Homo sapiens: one gene and its partner. The protein of the gene in region 1 interacts with the protein of each later gene in a pairwise test. Each region holds a gene or a part of one and is shown on either strand. Other genes may lie near its edges.

The links. Proteins that work in one complex are often made in the same cells at the same time.
Region 2: the proteins of ATF6 (region 1) and NNMT interact in a two-hybrid assay, tested with the Homo sapiens proteins (one large-scale study listed by BioGRID and IntAct).

What each region holds. Positions count from the first base shown.
Region 1 is NC_000001.11:161,769,320-161,772,819, forward strand, and holds part of ATF6 (cyclic AMP-dependent transcription factor ATF-6 alpha), read left to right. Parts: exon of another isoform or gene 1-3,296; intron 3,297-3,500.
Region 2 is NC_000011.10:114,299,399-114,302,898, reverse strand, and holds part of NNMT (nicotinamide N-methyltransferase), read right to left. Parts: intron 1-3,500. UniProt on the Homo sapiens protein: Catalyzes the N-methylation of nicotinamide using the universal methyl donor S-adenosyl-L-methionine to form N1-methylnicotinamide and S-adenosyl-L-homocysteine, a predominant nicotinamide/vitamin B3 clearance pathway.

The DNA.
Region 1 (3,500 bases):
CCCCTTCATCCCCAGCTTCTCCTATTGGTAACATCTTGCATTAGTGTGGTACATTGGTTACAATTGATGAGCCAGTATTGATACATTATTATTAACTAAGCCCATCATTTAAAGTTCACTCTGTTGTACATTCTATGGCAGGGATCCCCAGCCTTTTGGCACCAGGGACTGGTTTCATGAAAGACAATTTTTCCACAGGAGGTGGGGACAGGGAGGCACAGGAAATGTTTTCAGGATGATTCAAGTGCATTACATTTATTGTGCACTTTATTTGTATTGTTATTACACTGTAATATATAATGAAATAATTATATAACTCAACATAATACAGAATTAGTGGGAGCCCTGAGCTTGTTTTCCTGCAACTAGATGGTCTCATCTGGGGGTGATGGGAGACAGTGATTAGATCATCAGGCGTTAGATTCTCATAAGGAGCGTGCACTCTAGATCCCTCACATGTGCAGTTCACAGTAGGGTTCACACTCCTATGAGAATCTAATGCTGCTGCTGATCTGACAGGTCGTGGAGCTCAGGCGGTAATGCAAGTGATGGGGAGTGGCTGTAAATACAGATGAAGCTTCGCTCACTCACCCACCTGCTGCTCACCTCCTGCTGTGTGGCCTGGTTCCCAACAGGGTTGGGAACCACTGTTCTATGGGTTTTGACAAAGGTATAATGACATGTATCCATAATTACAGTATTATATAGAATAGTTTCACTGCCCTAAAAAAGCCCTATGCTCTACCTATTTTTTCCTCCTTCCTCTTCCCTACCTCTGGTCAGGTAACCACTGATCTTTTCACTGTCTCCATGGTTTTGCCTTTTGCAGAATGTCATATAGTTGGAATCATACAGTATGTAGCATTTTTGAATTGGCTTCTTTCACTTAGCAATATGCACTTAAGGTCCCTCCATGTCTTTTCATGGCTTGATAGCTCATTTCTTCTTAGCACTAAATAGTATTACAAAAATACTATTTACAGTGTTACAAAAAATAGTATGTATGTTCTATAGCCTATTAGTCTGCCTAGGCTGCCATAAGACAACACCACAGACTGCGTGGTTTAAACAATGGAAATTTATTTTCTCCCAGTTCTGGAGGTTAGAGTTCAAGATCAAGATGGCCGCACCTTCAGGTTCTGGTTAGGGCTCTCTTCCTGGCTTGCATGCACATGGCTGCCTTCTTCTTGTGTCCTCACATGGCACTGAGAGAGAGAATCTTCTTCTTCTTATAAGGCCACAGTCCTATCAGATTAGTGCCCCACTTTAATGACCTCATTTAACTTTAATTACCTCCTAAAGACTGTATCTCTCGATATAGTAATATTTGGGGTTAGGGCTTCAACATACGAATTTTGGAGGACACAGTTTAGGCCATAAATTCACAGTTTGCTTATCCACTTACCTATTGAAGCACATCTTGGTTGCTTCCAACTTTTGGCAATTATATATAAAACTGCTGAAAACATTTGTGTGCAGGTTTTTGTGTGGACATGCATTTTCCAATTGTTTGGGTAAATATCAAGGAGCACAATTGCTGGATTGTGTGGTAAGAACATGTTTTTTGTTTGTTTTGTAAGAAATTGCCAAACTGTCTTCCAAAGTGGCTATACCATTTTGCATTCCCGCTAGCAATGAATGAGCATTTTTGATGCTCCACATCCTTGCTAACATTTGGTGTTGCCAGTACTTTGGATTTTAGTCATTCTAATAGGTGTGTAGTGGTATGTTTTAATTTGCAGTTTCCTGATGACATATGATGTTGAGCATCTTTTCATATGCTTATTTGCCGTCTGTATGTTTTACCCTCCTCTCTCCTTCTCTCTTCTCTTTTACTCTTGCTTGAATTTGTGCAAAAGCTGCTTTATTCTGCTTTCTTCTTTCTTCCCTCCTCCTCCTCCTTTCTCCTTTCTCCTTTTTCCTTCTCTTTATTCTTCTGTCAGCTGTACTTAAGATATGTGTATCAAGATCAGAAGCTTTCGTCTGCCACTGTGGTTTCGTTTATGTCTTCAGTCTCTTCTGTGAAGGTTCTCTTGGCTTTCTAGCACTAAATCAAAATCTGGTGCTCCTGGATGACACAACTTCCCGTAATGCCCCGGTGAACGGTTGCTAATTTTATTCTCAAAACCTTTTCACCATAGGGCCTCTGTTGGTGGGATAGGTGTCTCCATTGTCCTTCACTGCTATTCTCCTTTCCTCCTCCCTAAAAATATCTAAGTTGAAATCTCATTTTGTCACAATATCCCATCCTCTACCTCTCCTGATTCCTGGATCACTCTCTTTCACTTTTCTTTTTTTCTTTTAGAGATGGGGTCTTGTTCTCTTGCCCAGGTTGGAGCTGGAGTATGCGGTGGAGCAATCACAGCTCACTGCATCTTCAGACCCCTGGGGTCAAAGGATCCTCCTGCCTCAGCCTCCCGAGTAGCTGGGACTACAGACACATGCCACCATGCCTGGCTTCTTTTTGGCTTTTTGAAAACATTTTGCCACTAGCTTACTGTTACTTTCTTCACCATTACTTCCATCATGATTCTTGGATGATTTCAGTATCCTTAGAGAAGATCCTTCAGATACACTGACCTGTCATTTTCTGGACCTCCTCTTTATCACTGATCTTACCTTTTACCCAGTCTCAGCCATTTGCTTTCCTGATCATAAGCCTAAGTCTTGTCACTACCAATAACATCTCACTTTCAAACATCCTGCTCTGACTGCCTTCGCCTGTTTTACCAGCTTACTTCCTTTAGTATTCCAGTTTCAATAGTTGTTCAGTCCTTCTGAGATTTTGCCATGTTTCCAGTGTCTCTCATTCTCTTCAGTTCATCACGTCCCTCTTACCCAGTTTAAATACCATGGACAGTCATTGTCACTATTTCCTTCCTTTCACCTTTCATATTCATGTCTGTCTCTTTTCTGGTAGGTTTCTCTTGGATAAACCTATTAGTTAAATTCAGTTTTGCCCACTTCATGCCTGTCCTAGTATAGCTGAATCAGCTGAAGAAAACACTTCAACTGTCCTGACTGGTCTCAATTTAAGTGTTGCCAGACCAATCATATTTCCCTGGTCCTCTCACTGTCCCATTCTGATGATTGCTTTATAAAGTTTCTTCTATCTTCAAACCTCCAACATCTCTCCCATCCTTTGAATCAGAAGAGAACTTCTACAGTCTCCCACTACCTCATTTACCCACCTATCAACATGTTTGCTTTCTCTTTTGTTGGTGAGAATGAGTGGCTTCTTGCTCCTAGCTAGAGCCAGTCCTTCCATATGTGCTTTAGATTCTTCCTGTTTTGTTCAAGAATATTGCTCAAGCTATTCTTCCTCCTGTTTCCTGCATCAGCATTTCCCCTCTCTACTAGATCATCTCTGTCAGTAAATGAACATGTTGTTGTTTCTCCTAGAAGTACTGTTTCTATATCTAGATAGTACTCTAGCTAGAGTTAAAAAAAAAAAAAACAAAACCAACAAACTCAAAACTCTCTTCAGATGTTACTTCACC
Region 2 (3,500 bases), on another chromosome or scaffold:
TGGCAGAAGGAGAGCTAGAGAGCTCTATGGGGTTCCTTTTATAAGGGCACTAATCCCATTCATGAAGTCTCCACCTCCATGACCTAATGACCTTTCAAAGCCCCGACCTCTTAATACCATCATAAGGGGGTTAGGATTTCAACACAGAAATTGGGAGGGAGGGATAAAAACATTCAGTCCAAAATTCCTATGTTTAATATATATTGTTATATACATTGTTTAAAACTGTATACTGACTTATGTGACTATACTTAACACTATTCAACTAACACTTAAACATAGTAAAGATGGTAAATTTTATTTTAAAAATCAAAATTAAAAATAAGACAATAAAAATAAATAAAATCACTACTAACTAAAGCAAAACTAATAACAATATATGTATTATAGTGTTATACATAGAAATAAAATACATGACAAGAACATAAGGGCCAGGAAAGTCGGTTAAGGAAATTACACTTTTGGAATATCTTACATCCTTCATGAGACAATAGATATGTCAAGGATGCATATTGCAATTCCTAGAAAAACCACACAAACTCACACAAGACACAGAAGAGGTTAACAGGGGAGATAAAAAATAAATACTAAAAATATGTACACTTATACTAAATGGAATACTAAAAATTACTGCATTCACCAAGGGAAAACAGGAAGAAAGACACAGGTGAACAACAATCAGATGGGACAGATAGAAATCATATACCAAGATGGTAGATTTAAATTCAACCCTGTAATATTAGTAATTACATTAAATGTAAATGGACTAAACAATCCAGTTAGAGGCAGAAATTGTCAGTCTGGATTAAAAAGAGAAAACATAATCTGAAAACAGAAGGGTAGAAAAAGATATGTAGATATATCATGTATATTAGTTATATGTAACTGCAGGATAAATTATCCCCAAAATTTAGCAGCTAAAAATGACAAACACTTATTTCTCTGTTTTTTCTGGTTCAACTGGGGGAAATTTGGTTCCAAGCTCACTCCCCAGGACAAGAGAGTGAGATAGAGACAGAATACCCAATAAAAAGCTGTCATTTTTTAAAAATTGATTTTGTTTTTTACAGCAATATTAGGTTCACCGCAAAATCAAGCAGAAGGCCTACATTGGCATACCATTATCACCCAAAGTCTGTAATCTACGTTAAGATTCACTCTTGGTATTGTACATTCCATGGATTTGGACAAATATATAATGACATGTGTCCACCATTATAGTACTGTACAGAGTAGTCTCACTGCTCTAAAAAATCCTCTATACTCCACCTATTTATCTCTCCCTCCCCGACCCCTAGCAACCACTTATCTTCTTTACTTCTTCCCTAGTTTTGCATTTTCCAGAATGTCATATAGTTGGAATCATACATGTAGCCTTTTAAGATTGGCTTCTTTCAATTAGTAATTGTATTTACATTTCCTCCATGTCTTTTCGTGGCTTGATAGCTCATTTCTTTTTAGCACTGGATATTATTCCATTGTCTAAATGTACCACAGTTTATTTATTCATTCGCTTACTGAAAGACATCTTGGTTGCTTCCAATTTTTGGCAATTATGAATATAGCTACTATAAACATCTGTGTGCAGCTTTTTGTGTAGACATACCACAGCTTTTTGGGTTACATACTGAGGAGTGTAATACATGCAGCTTTCTGGGTTACATACCAAGGAGTGCAACTGCTAGATTGAATAGTTTTGCAAGGAATAGTCGAATTGTCTTCCAAAATGGCTACACCATTTTTAATTCCCACGAACAATAAATAAGAGTTCCTCTTTCCCCACAGCCTCATCAGCATTTGGTGTTGTCAGTCTTCCAGATTCTGGCCTAGATCTAATAGGTGTGTAGTGGTGCTGTAGTCCTTTTAATTTAATATCACAATTGATATCCCATCACTATGCTGCATTCTACCAAACTTGTCAGTACTGAATCACTAAATCCAGTGGATATTCTAGGGAAGGGGATTACACAAAGGTGAAAATACTGACACAAGGATTATTGGGGGCCATCTTAGAGGCTGCCCACCACACCATGCAAAACAGCAAGCATAGGAAGGGTGATGTAGCTATATTAACATCAGAAAAAGTAGACTTCAAGACAAATACATTGCTGGAAATAAAGGGAGATATTTCACAATGGTAAAGTGGTCAGTTCATCAAGAAGACATAACAATCCTAAAAATGTATATAACAGAGCTAAAAACAAGTGTCAAAATGCATATAGCAAATGTTGACAGAACTATAGGGAGCAAAGGATAAATCAACAATCATAGTTTGAGACATTAACACTCTCAGTAATTGACAGAGAAAGTAAACAAAACGTCAGTAAGGATGTAGAAAATTTGAATGATACTATCAACCTGCCTGACTTAATTGATATTTATAGAAACTATATCTACAACTGAACAATATACACTCTTTTCAATGTAGAAAGCACATAGAACGTTTACTGAGATAGACCATATGCAGAGCCACAAAATAAATCTCTGACTACAACAAAATTTAATTTGAAAGCAATAACAATAAGATAGCTAGAAAAATCCCAATACTTTGGAAATTAAGCAACATAATTCTAAATAATTCATGGTCAAAAAAGAAATTACAAAGGAAATGAGACAATATGCTGAATTTGAAAATAATAAAAATACCACATACAAGAATCATGGGATGCAGTTAAAACAGTGCTAAAGGAAATTTGCAGCATTAAATGCCTACATTAGAAAAAGAGATATGTGAAATAAATGATATAAGTTTCCAACTTAAGAAGCTAAAAGAAGAATTAAAAACAAGACATTTTAGAAAGCTAGAAAAAAATAAAGTAAACTAGAAAAGAATTAAAATTAAAATAACTAGAAGAAAGAAAGTGATCAAAAATAAGAGCAGAAAGCAATGAAATAGAAAATGGACAGACAATAGAGAAAAATCAACATAGCCAAAAGTTGGTTTTTGGAAAAGATTAATAAAATGATCAATCTGTAGCAAGGTTGATCAAGACAACAGAAAGAAAACAAGACAAATTACCAATATCAAGAATGAAAGAGGAGAGATCACTACAGATCCTACAGACATAATAAGGTATTAAAAGGATATTGTAAAAAAAAAAAAATGCCAATAAAGTTGACAACCAAGATAAAAAGGACAAACTTCTTGAAAAGTACCACTTACCAAAACAGACAAAAGAACAAACGGAAAATCCAAGTAACCATTAAAGAAATACTGTTTTTAATAAAGTCTTCTCTCGCACAAAAATTTCAGATTCACCTGGCTTCGCTGGTAAATGCTATCAATCATTTAAGAAGGAAATTATACTAATAATACTCAAACTCTTTCAGAAAATAGAAGAGGGGATATCACTCCCAACTCATTTTATGACTCCAGCCAGCATCATGCTGATATCAAAATTTGTGAAGCACACTAGAAGAAAATTATAGCTCAATTATACTTCATGACCAAGTAGTTTATGCCACTTTGGTGTAACATTCAAAATTTTCCAATGTAATTC